Linked DNA regions of Homo sapiens: all the other regions are linked to region 2. Evidence: fine-mapped QTL for protein levels in blood plasma. A gene starts in region 2. Each other region holds a variant in brackets. All regions are shown on one strand. Distances are from middle to middle.

What was found. PIP is the posterior inclusion probability: the model's chance that the variant is causal. Protein levels are from antibody-based Olink assays in UK Biobank. Linkage for the fine-mapping came from a reference panel and not from the study's own genotypes, which makes the PIPs less certain.
Region 1: its variant is fine-mapped to the plasma level of the LPO protein (UK Biobank, PIP 0.97).
Region 3: its variant is fine-mapped to the plasma level of the LPO protein (UK Biobank, PIP above 0.99). The variant lies in the coding sequence of LPO. If it changes the protein, the assay may bind it differently, which can mimic a change of level.

The regions. Positions count from the first base shown.
Region 1 is chr17:58,589,346-58,593,697 of GRCh38, reverse strand. It overlaps TEX14 (testis expressed 14, intercellular bridge forming factor), which reads left to right. Exons shown (of 32, transcript NM_031272.5): 15 at 37-143. Among named protein-coding and RNA genes, the nearest start is that of SEPTIN4, 47 kb to the right of the region's middle. The variant A/C (reference allele first, on the strand shown) is at 2,045.
Region 2 is chr17:58,236,886-58,241,237 of GRCh38, reverse strand. LPO (lactoperoxidase) reads right to left here and starts at 2,654. Exons shown (of 13, transcript NM_006151.3): 1 at 2,499-2,654.
Region 3 is chr17:58,250,204-58,254,203 of GRCh38, reverse strand. It overlaps LPO (lactoperoxidase), which reads right to left. Exons shown (of 13, transcript NM_006151.3): 7 at 3,583-3,789; 8 at 1,698-2,022. Among named protein-coding and RNA genes, the nearest start is that of LPO, 14 kb to the right of the region's middle. The variant T/ATGGT (reference allele first, on the strand shown) is at 1,790.

The DNA.
Region 1 (4,352 bases), 350 kb before region 2:
CATCAAAGCCCTGAAACATGTTTATTGCTTTTTAAGCTGCCGACTCTTTGTGACCCTGGAAAACAGAACACAGATGAACAATTTCAGTGCACTCAAGGAGCCAAGGACAGTTTGGAAACAAGCAGGATCCAAAATACCAGTAGGTGGGTCAACATTTTGTTGTTCTTAATGTCACTATGCCTTTAGACTTCTGTGTGTCTCTGAGGCCACTCAGTGATCTTCTTATGTCTAGTGACAAAAGGACTGTGAGTGATGAAGAAGAGTAATGCAGATTGGCAGGTTCTCCCACTGAGTGAGTAGGAAGAGCAGTGTCATGGGAACTTGAGGAGACATCAAAGCCCAAGTGGCTGGCAGGTTAATCAGACAGAACTCATCAGTTGTTAGAAGCAAAGCATCTTGCCTTTCCGCAACTGCCCAGATAGTTTTTCTTATAAAAACAAACACCAGGTATTCCATTTACCAGTGCTCCAGAAACTAAACTAATTGGAAACCAGGGTTGTTTAAAGTAAGTGTCACTGACTCCAGAGAGAGTTGAACAACATCACTATGACCCTGGGGTGTGTGATTTCCAGCCAGACGAATGAAATGAATTGACTTTAGCACAAATTACTGGAAGAAGAGTGTGTGTGTGTTTGTATATATGTTCATACACATATATGTATATATAATATATTCATACACATATACGTATATATAATATATTCATACATATATGTATATGTATTCATGCACACATAGGTATATATGTATTCATGCATATATATGCATATACACATATATTCGTGCATGTGTATACATACATACATATATTCATACATACACACACACATGCTGAGTTTTAAAGAACTTAAGTAAAACAGGCCGAGTGTGGTGGGTCACGCCTGTAATCCTAGCACTTTGGGAGGCCAAGGTGGGCGGATCACTTGAGGTCAGGAGTTCGAGAGCAGCCTGGCCAACATGGTGAAACCCCGTCTCTACTAAAAATACATAAATTAGCCGGGCGTGGTGGCGGGCACCTGTAATCCCAGCTACTTGGGAGGTGGAAGCTCAATAATAGCTTGAACAGCTGGGTGCGGTGGCTCACACCTGTAATCCCAGCGCTTTGGGAGGCCAAGGCAGGCAGATCACGAGGTCAGGAGATCGAGACCATCCTGGCTAACATGGTGACACCCCGTCTCTACTAAAAATACAAAAAATTAGCCGGGCGTGGTGGCGGGCGCCTATAGTCCCAGCTACTCGGGAGGCTGAGGCAGGAAAATGGCGTGAACCCAGGAAGCAGAGCTTGCAGTGAGAGGAGATCGCGCCACTGCAGTCCAGCCTGGGCGATAGAGCAAGACTCCGTCTCAAAAAAAAAAAAAAAGAATCACTCGAACCCAGGAGGCAGAAGTTGCAGTGAGCTGAGATGGCACCACTGCACTCCAGCCTTGGCAACAGAGTGAGATTCTGACTCAAAAAAAAAAATTAAATAAATAAAGAACGAACTTAAGTAAAACAAATTTATTTGGTGTGTGGGAATTTTTTTTCAATTTTTAAAAAATTGATTAAAATTTTTTTTGGTTTAAATTTAGTTAGGTATTATAAGTAAGGGAATTACTAAAAGGGCAATAATTTTTTTTTCTTTCTTTTTTTTTTTTGAGATGGAGTTTCACTCTTGTTGCCCAGGCTAGATAGAGTGCAGTGGCGTGATCTCGACTCACTGCAAACTCCACCTCCTGGGTTCAAGCGATCCTCCTGTCTCAGCCTCCTGAGTAGCTGGGATTACAGGTGCCCACCACCATGCCCAGCTAATTTTTTATATTTTTAGTAGAGATGGGGTTTCACCATGTTGGCCAGGCTGGTCTTGAACTCCTGACCTCAGGTCATCCACCCACCTCAGCCTCCCAAAGTACTGGGATTATAGGTGTAAGTCACCACTCCCAGCCAATATATGTTTTTCACGACAGACTAGTATATCAGTTTTAGTTTTTTTTTGTTTTTTTTTTTTCCTGTGGATAAATGGTAGCACTAATCCACAACTTTGAAGTCAGTTCTCCTGGAAAAAAAA[A/C]CTTTTTATTCCTCGCCCTAGTGGTGATTGAGACTAATGACGAGTTTGCTGTTTGTTTCATGTTGGCAAATATGTATGTAAGGGAAAATGAAGGAAAATGTCCAGACATTTTATTTATTTATTTTTTATATTTTTGAAATGGAGTTTCGCCCTTGTTCCCCAGGCTGGAGTGCAATGGCGCGATATTGGCTCACTGCAACCTCCACCTCCCAGGTTCAAGCGATTCTCCTGCCTCATCCTCCCAAGTAGCTGGGATTACAGACATGCACCACCAGGCCTGGTTAATTTTGTATTTTTTAGTAGAGATGGAGTTTCTCCATGTTGGTCAGGCTGGTCTCAAACTCCTGACCTCAGGTGATCCACCCACCTTGGCCTCCCAAAGTGTTGGGATTACAGGCGTGAGCCACCGCGCCCAGCCAGACATTTTAGATCAGTGGATTTTATTCCTATGAAGGGAATAATGAAGAACTACCTAGCTGGCATCAGAGTGTTTGGCACTCACACCACTGATAGAAGCAAATGGGATGACATAGCCATTAGATGACAAAGAAAAACCCATAGTTGTTGTGGCCTCCCCTGCTCGGCACCCTCTTCCCTCAGAAGTACAAAGAACAGACCAAAAAAAAGTTTGACATTTTTCCACCTGTTCCTCTAGTCTTTTTGTGTGCTTAAAAAAAAAGTGACAATTACGATATGTGTAAGCAATTTTATGTCATGATTTTCACTTTACATTAGAATGTAAACATTACTCTATGTTATTAAAAAAAAAAAACCCTGTAAACTTATTTTGAAATTGTTGGGCTGGGCAAGGTGGCTCCCACCTGTAATCCCAGCACTTTCGGAAGCCAAGACAGGCAGATCACTTGAGCCCAGGAATTGGAGACTACCCTGGGAAACATGGCAAAACACCATCTCTACAAAAAATTAGCCAGGCATGGTGGTGTGCGGCTGTAGACCCACACCCTCTCCTACTTGGGAGGCTGAGGTGGGAGGATCACCTGATCCTGGGGAGGTCAAGGCTGCAGTGCCATGATTATGCCACTGCATTCCAGTTTGGGCGACAGAATAAGACCCTGTCTCAAACAACAACAACAACAACAACAACAACAACAACAACAAAAATAGTTGGATTTCACCTATTGTTGAATTTTAGGTTGCTTCATTCTTTATTCTGTTATGAATAGGGACACAGTTACTTGTAAATAATGCTTTGTTTTTGCATTTTGGATTATTTCCTCAGGATGGATTCTCAGAAGCAGAATTACTTGGTCAAAGGGTTTGAAGATTTTAAGGATTCTTTTCCCCTCCTTTTTAAGACAGGGTCTCGCTCTGTCGCCCAGGCTTCCTTGCAGTGGCGCAATCTCAGTTCATGGTTTTTTTTTTTTTTTTTTTTTGACACAGAGTCTTGCTATGTCGCCAGGCTGGAGTGCAGTGGCGCAAACTCGGCTCACTGCAACCTCCGCCTCCTGGGTTCAAGCGATTCTCCTGTCTCAGACTCCTGAGTAGCTGGGATTACAGGCGTGCACCACCACACCCGGCTAATTTTTGTATTTTTAGTAGAGACAAGATTTCACCATGTTGTCCAGGATGGTCTCCATCTCTTGACTTTGTGATCTGCCCGCCATGGCCTCCCAAAGTGCTGGGATTACAGGCGTGAGCCACCACGCCTGGCCAATCTCAGTTCACTTTATGGGGCCAATGTGTGAGGGTCGCTTGAAGTCTGGGAGTTTGAGACCACGCTGGGCAACAAACATTGTGTGACTTCATCCCTACCAAAAATACAAAAACTAGCTGGCTGTGGTGGCAGGTGCCTGTGGTCCCAGCTACTTGGGAGGCTGAGGTGGGAGGATCGCTGGAGCCTGGGAAGTTGAGCCTGCAGTAATCTGTGATTGTGCCACTGTACTCCAGCCTAGTGACAGAGTCAGACCCTATCTCCAAAAGAATTTTATTTTTTTAAAAAGGAAGCTGATCAGATCTACCCTCTCTGATTCAGCAGTCTCTCTGCTTTCTGGTCCAGCTGGAGAGTAGGGCATTCTAGATAACAGGGAATTCATATCTGTGCCACAGAGCACACACTTTTTTTTTTTTTTTTTTTTGAGACGGAGTCTCGCACTGTTGCCCAAGCTGGAGCGCAGTGGATCTTGGCTCACTGCAACCTCTGCCTCCCGGGTTCAAGAGATTCTCCTGCCTCAGCCTCCCAAGTAGCTGGGATTACAGGCGCCCGCCACCATGCCCAGCTAATTTTTTGTATTTTTAGGAGATACGGGGTTTCACCATGTTGGCCAGGCTGGTCTTGAACTCCTGACCT
Region 2 (4,352 bases):
TCGGGAGACTGAGGCAGGAGAATCCCTTGAACCTGGGAGGTGGAGGCTGCAGTGAGCCAAGATTGCGCCACTGCACTCCAGCCTGGCTCAAAAAAAAAAAAAAAAAAAAAAAGAAAAAAGAAAAGAAAAGAACAACAACAACAAAAATCCACATAGCATAAAATTTAGCATCCTAGTCATTTAAACTCTACAGTACTGTAATGTTAGGTATATTCACATGTTGCACAATGGATCTCTAGAACATTTTCATCCTGTAAAAACTGAAACCCTATACCCATTGAACACCAACTCCCTATTTCCCCTTCCCCCTAGCTCCTGGCAACCACCATATCACTGATTTTTTTAAAGAGGGCTGTGGGCACAAACATTCATTATATTGTTCTTTGAATGACTAATGCGTTTCCTAATAAATGACAAACACAAAGTAAAAAATTAGTCCATTTTTTAAAAAGACATCATCTGAGACAGCCTGAGGAAGACAAAATCATAGAAGAAGACATGAAAGTTGAGAAATTTGAACAGGAAACAATACTTAAATATTCAATTCTCCTCTCCTCTTCTTTAGGACCCCCTTCATGCTCTCCTCACTGGAAAGTGGAGGAGGGGGACTTCAAGGCCAGAGAGAAATTATTTTCCCATGTCTTGGGCAATGTTCCTGGTGGGTGTGAGGGACGGGTATGAACAAAAATCAGAGCCAGGTGAATACAAGGTCATGTCACTGAAAAGGGGGTGTGCAGAAAGATTCTAGAGGGACACTGTCTTCAGCCAGAACCACACAGGGCAAGAGGGCCTGGGGCTTTAGAGTGTAAGAGGCCAACAAGAGGCTCCTGTGATGTGTAGATATTTATCCATATTCTTATCAACATGCTGAGTGCAGAAACCATTTCCCAAGCCCTTTGATTTGCAGCAAAGCCTGGAGCCTTCCCTGGGACATGAAGCACTATCTGGAGACAGAGCCACAGCCTTTGCCCCTCAAATGCCAGGCTGGTCCACAATCCCATGCCTCTACTCATGCTCTTCCCTATACAATACCCTCTCTGGCTAATAAACTCCTATTCATTCTTCAAAACCCAGACCAAATTTCACCTCCTCTGTGAAGTTTACCAGTTTTCTCCAGGAAAAGTTAGATCGTTCCTTTTTCTGTCCTCCCACAGTATTTCATCCATATCTCATATTACTGTCTTCACATCTGTTTCCCCTATCAGACCATGAACTCCTCAAGGGCTCCATCTTATTTATTTGTTTTCCCAGGACCTAAGCATGTCAATACATAATAGGTGTTGGGTGCATGCTGAATGAATAAAACTCCTAGAGCAGAGAAATTCAGCATCTGGAGGTTGCAGAGGGAGAGGGCAGAGATAGTCCCTCGGCAAGCCTCTCACACTGTAATGTGCCTACTATCACCTAGGGATTTTGGTAAATGCAGATTCTGACTCAGAAGGTCATAGAAGGGGCCTGAAAGTCTGCATTTCCAGTAAGCTCCAGGTGATGATGATGTTGCTGGTCTGCAGACCACACTCTGAGTACCAAGGCCTTCCAGACTTTGGTTCTCAATGTCGCTGAGCAGTCACCAAGGAGATAGGGGGAAGGCCTGAGAAGGGATGAAGTCAGTGAGATTCTCTTCCATGATTGTAAAGAGCCCTGTGGAGGGTGGTGGAGTGAGCCAATAGGAAAGCCATAATTCTTGCCCCATCACCTGCAGGAACACTCTCTTGATCTTTTGAGTGACTCCAAGATCAGGATGAGAATGAAGAGATAGCTCTTATCAAGCCCTCTAGAGCGGAAATAATCTACTTCAACTGAAAGATTTGAGGCACACAATTGCATAAAAAACAAATATAATTTAACCACCCCATTCCCCCAAAATGAAGCCTGCCTACTACCGCTGCATACAGGTCACACACCTGCTTGAGAGCCAGGTGTCCACAGGGCACTTAAGACAGCTAGGACTAGACATTGAGGGCAAACTAGATGGTCGGATCTGCTGCAGATGGCAGGCATGAGATGCTGGAAATGAGATGAAGACCTGACAGCTCCGGCTTAGGGAACCCCTTAAAACACTGCAAAATCTCCACTATAGTGGAGAGGCCAGATTTCATCACACTGTCTCAAGAACAGCACAGGGAGCACCATTCTGTCACTGTTTTCCCCCAAATTCCTGTGTGACTCTGGACACATTAAATTGCTTAAGTCTCAGTTCCTAAACAAGGTGGATAAGAGAGGTCTATGGTACCTTCCAGCCCTAAGAGTTTATGATTCTCTGACATAGTTTTCAGACACAGAAAAGCCTTTTTCCCCCACAGTGGTGGGGGGAGGCTTAATTACATTCTCTCTTATACCAAACAAGAGGAGTGTGCCATGGGGTGGCTAAAGCTGGCACCAGAAAGTGCCTGATAGAGACAAGTCTAAATCCAGTGTTAAGCTTTCTGAGAAGACGTTAGGAAATTTCATCATCAACTTTGCAGAAACCAGGAAAGATGAAAGTTGACGAGTCTTACCTGCCCAGTGCCTTGTCTTTTCACGGCAGCCAGGGAGTTGCTCTGCTTGGAGGAGCTGGTCTTTTATACCTTCCAGCAAGAATTCACTTCTGGGAAAGGCCCAGAAGGAAAGATTTTGATGTGGCTTGGAGGAGACGCTGAGGCTTAGCAGGAAAGACTGTGTGACTCCGGGCAGATACACCAGGAAACTGCAGAATGGCAGGGATTGGTTGATGCAATAGCACTGACTGTGGGTGAAGCAACTCCTCTTTCCATTTTCTAGCTTAAATGCATGATCCTGATCTAGTTCCGGAAGGCAAAAACTGCATGCCCTGAGCACATTTGTCCCTTTTAAGCTCCTAATGGGATCCGAATAGCTCTTAGAATTATGAACAATTATTAGGTTGGTGCAAAAGTATTGCAAAAACCGCAATTACTTTTGCACCTAGCTAAATGGTTCTCCTCCCCATTCATATATTCACTGCCCTTTGATCCCTCCCTTACATTCCACCCAATTTACTGTGGAATCCAGTGGATTCATCTTTTGGATTTAAAGTGATCAATAAACATTAATTTTTTTGGTCAAAATTTCAAAATACTTTTGGCCACCAAAGGGTGAGAAGAGCCCTAAGCTTTCATAGTGGGTTGCAGTCCCTGCCTCTGCCATTGTATGGCTCTAGGCAAGTCACTTCACCTTCTGGTGTCTCAAATTTTCTAGTATTGAAATCAATGGTTGGTTTTGGTGATTATTATGATTCTATGACTTCATGCCTTCTATAGGGTGACCCATTTAAAAAACTCCAGAATCTGGGAGGCCAAGGTGGGTGGATCACTTGAGGTCAGGAGTTGGAGACCAGCCCAGCCAACATGGTGAAACCCTGTCTCTACTAAAAACACAAAAATTAACCAGGCATGGAGGTGCATACCTGTAATCCCAGCTACCTGGGAGGCTGAGGTGGGAGAATCACTTGAACCTGGGAGGCAGGGGTTGCAGTGAGCCAAGATCATGCCATTGCACTCCAGCCTGGGTGACAGGACGAGACTCTGTCTCAACAAAACGAAACAAAACAAAACCACCACTATCGTATAAATTATTGACCTAAAGCTCAAGCATAATGTTACATACCTTTCCTACCTCAATGACTTTGGAAATTCAAGTTCATTAGATTCATACAAGAAGGAAAAAGGAAGATTCCGAGAAAACAAAATTTCATGAAAGTATATTTTACAGACAGACAATTTAAAACATAATAAGCCTCTTTATGAAATTATACTTTGAGTTGAAAATACTCTGGGAGCAACTGTCAGAAATTTATCAACCCCAAAACAGACTTCTTGGTTCGCCTTCAAAAAAGTGATATTTCCTTTCTCTAGATGGTGGAATATATCTAAAAACTACTTCTCTCGTGATGAATCCAGGCAAATAAGCTGGGCATCTCGGAAGAAGGCAGCTGTCCAGGAGAGGTGAATGAGACATCAGGCTCTTCTTGTTTTCTTTGAAACACACTTCAGCTCCTTAGCCAAGCATTGTTTTTCTGTGTCTGACCATTCCCTGAACTTTGGCACATGTTTCTCAAGGTTCTTGCCTCTGAGTTTTATGCTTAATATGTTCAGGAAGCTGTGTTGTTAGGCAGATCTTGACCTAGTTGGTTCTGAATAATCTGAAGATGGAACTTCCTTTTAGAAGACCCTATGGGATAACATTGCTTCCTATGTACAAAATATAGTGACTTATTGGTCAGGGTAACAGCAAAATACAGGTCTGATTATTCCCGGGTTTTATCATGTTATGACATGATATGATATGTCCTAGCTTTGGTCTTTCTGTAATGGGTCAAATAGGATGGGGCAGTGTCAGCTCCAGCCCAGTAAGGA
Region 3 (4,000 bases), 13 kb before region 2:
TTTAGGAGAGTCTATCTATCTATCTATCTATCTATCTATCTATCTATCTATATATCTATATATCTATATATCTATCATCATCTATCTATCTATCTGGACAGTCTTGCTCTGTTGCCCAGGCTGGAGTGCAATGGCATTATCTTGGCTAACTGAAGCCTCAACCTCGTGGGCTCAAGTGATCCTCCTGTTTCAGCCTCCAGAGTAGCTGGGACTACAGGCATGTGCCACCATGTGTTGCTAGTTTTTAAATTTTTTGTAGAGACAGGGGTCTTGCTATGTTGCCCAGGCTGTTCTCGAACTTGTGGCCTCAAGCAATCCTCCCACCTAAGCCTCCCAAAGTGTTGGGATTACAGGCATGAGCCACTGCACCAGGCCAGGAAATCTATTTAAAATTGTAAATTCTTGGTGTGAGTGCATATTTTTATGAAAAACAAGAAAGAACTCGGTTTTGTGTCTGGATTGCTGTGGGATATATGTGAACACAAAATCCAAAAGATCTATAAAGGTATCTTGGCCTAAGAGCTGGCCTTCTGCAATGTCAGGGTGGCCAGGGGGTTTGTCCAAAGAGAGAGGATGTTTGAGGGTGGGATGGCCTCTAGAAGCCGGAGACAGAGAGGACCAGGAGGGCACCTGGAATGAACAGAATTAGCAGGGCTTTGGTCGTGCACAGGCTGAATGGAATGGGGATTTTGTCCCCAGGTTATAAAAAGCTTTAAAAATATACATTCCTCTTCATCTAGAACTTCCTCTTCTGGGAAATTAGCTTAATAAATGTATTAAAAATGAGAACAAAGATTTATCAATGAAGATGTTCATTACCTAAACAACAGCAACAAAACACAGGAAAACTTGAAATAACTAAATTCCCCCAAGTAGGATTGAGAAAATAAATGATGGTAATATGTGTCATGAAATACCAGGCAGCCATTAAAAATCACGTCATAGAAGAACAGTTAATGGCATGGAGTAAATTAAGTGAAGACATCAGGTTTTGGAGCATTATTTATAGTAAGACCCGATTATGTAAAACAATGTAGAACTGTATCTGTGATAGAAAAAATACTGGAAAATAAGCATGAAAATGTTAACGATGATTATTGGTGGGTAGTGGGATTGTGTGAATTTTCTTTTTCTTTTCTTTTCTTTCTTTCTTTCTTTTTTTTTTTTTTTTTTTTTTTTTTGAGATGGAGTCTTGCTTTGTTGCCCAGGCTGGAGTGCAGTGGCGTGATCTCGGCTCACTGCAACCTCCGCCTCCTGGGTTCAGGTGATTCTTCTACCTCAGCCTCCAGAGTAGCTGGGACTACAGGGGTGTGCCACCACGCCCGGCTAATTTTTTGTGTTTTTAGAAGAGACGGGGTTTCACCATGTTAGCCAGGATGGTCTCGATCTCGTGACCTCATGATCTGCCTGCCTCGGCCTCCCAAAGTGCTGGGATTACAGGCGTGAGCCACCAAGCCTGGCACTTTCTTTTTATTTTCTTTGTTACTTTTCTGGACTTCCTGATTTTGTTTTACAGTGAACATATGTTCTGGAATTCTTTATTCATCTGGGCCCTTCTGCTAGTCCTGGACCACTGCTAGGGACAGCAATGGCTCAGTGTGCATTTTTCCAGAAAGATGACAAGAAGGGGGCAGTGGTAAAGCTTCCCTGGATAATCCCCTTGTCCTTGGGCCCTTCTGTTCCCAGGCTAGACTCACCTGCCAGGAAGCAGGGCACACGGGCAGTGGTGTTGATGAACTCACAGGGGCTTGGCTTCTTGCTGTCATAGGGCAGGTAGGGTAGTCCATGG[T/ATGGT]CTGAGACCTCCTGGTTGACAGCCATGAGGCCCAGGGGGCTGCTGAGGTTGCGGAGGCGGCTGGCCAGGCTTGGCTCGGAGCTGTACACAAAGCTGGCATCCAGGAAGGAGGTCAGAGCGTTGATCTGCTCTCGGGCCAGGGACTTGTAGGGTGGAGTGGGGCAGACGAACCCAGCTCGGAAGAAAGGCATGCATTTCCCTTGAGTCCCCGCCTTGGGGTCATTGGGTGGGAACTGCAGAGAGAGTGGGCATAAGTGACTGGGCAGGGGTGGAACAGCTGGGTCCTGGCAACCTCTCCCCAGGGCAAGTCTGGATGCAAAGATGCTGATGGCACCCTCCTAGGACCCTGGTACCAGACACTGACCCCAGACACTTCTTGCTGACATTACACACCCTGGGCTCATAATATCCTGAAGTTCATTACATCCTGTTGTGTGAAAGAACTGAGGGTAATCATTCAGTCCTCACAGTGAGGGCTCCAAATTTCTGGTGAGGAGGGAGTATTGAGCTCCCTGGACAGGAAAGCAGGACACGAGGTGGGAACAGGTTTGTTAATAATTACTACTAACAACAGCTGCCATGTATTTATTTTGGACTTACCATGTGCCAGGAATTATGCATACTTTAACTCATCTCAGTCCTCAAAAAAACCCTGTAAGGTGGACAATTCAGTTCCATTTTATAGATGAGAAAACTGGGGCTCAGAAAAGTTAAGTAAGTTGCCTAAGAACTTATACACTGGAAGGGAAAGATGTAGGATTCAGATCATTGGCTTCATTCCACAGTTTATGCTCTTTATACCACAGCACATAGCCTCGATTTATTCTTTGAGTGAAGAAATGACTCTCCAACTGTAATACCCATGAATAATAAGAAAAGATGCATTGCTGCAAGCTCCTCTCCCTTCCGGATGGAAATCCCTACAAATCCCTGCTGCTCACTCGGATTCATCCAGGTTTCAAGTCCTTCTGAGTGGAGTTGAAGTCATCCTCCACGATGATGTACAGCAGTATAAACTTTATCATGTATAAAATGAATCTCTGTTGATCTTGGTAAAAATGTAGAATCTATTTCCTAACATCTTGGGTGAGACTTGAGATTTTGCATTTTTTTTTTCTTTTTCTTTTTTCTTTTTTGAGTTGGAATCTTGCTCTGTTGCCCAGGCTGGAGTGCAGTGGCGTGATCTCGGCTCACTGCAACCTCCGCCTCCCAGGTTCAAGCGGTTCTCCTGCCTCAACCTCCTGAGTAGCTGGGACCACATGCATGTGCCACCTCGCCAGGCTAATTTTTGTATTTTTAGTAGAGACGGGGTTTCACCATGTTGGCCAGGCTGGTCTCAAACTCTTGACCTCAGGTGATCTGTCCACCTCAGCCTCCCCAAGTGCTGGGATTATAGGCATGAGCCGCCTCGCCCAACTGAGATTTTACATTTCTAATAAGCAGGTTTTACCAATGCTGCTGGGTCGGGAATGTAGACAACCTTCTCCAGTGTTCCCATTCTGCTATCAGTAGTTTACTTGTCCAATTCCCACACTGGCCCTTTGTTCTTGAGAGCAGGAGCGGTGTCCTGTTCACTTTGGAATCCTCAGCGCTTAGTGCACTGCCTGGTATGGGGTGGTCAATGTCTATTTACTGAATAAACGGATGAGTGAACGAATGGACACGTGAGGCATGGGAAACTACCAAATCAGTATCCCAGATCTATCCAGAGATCCTAGCTGATGAGCTGGGAATGTCTGCTACATCAGGGTGGGCAAGGGGCTAGTCAGAGATGCCTAGCTGCAGGGCCGTACCATGATGGGGAAGCAGTTGTCTCCCTGGATACAGTACTCATCACACTGGGCTTTGGAGTACTCGCTACTCCCCAGCTCGGTGTCAGGGGCAAAGTCCAGGTCATGATCCACAATCTGACCCCACTGCATGAAGAGCAGGGACCTGTTTTGGTCCAGAACACCCTCCTCATTCAGATAGCCAACAATCTTGTTAGATACCTCCCGGGCCTACAGATGGAGAGAGAAGGGGAGGGCAGATTAGAGGAAAAAGTGCTTTGAGGATTCAGATGCAACTACAGCTTATTAACTACCTACCATGTTACAAGTGCACTTAATCCCTACAAGGAGTTTGTGAGGTGGGTGGCATTAGCCTATTCTGTAGAGGGGGAGATTGAATCCTGGACAGGTGAAGTCAGTTCTCCAAGGTCCTGCCGCTACA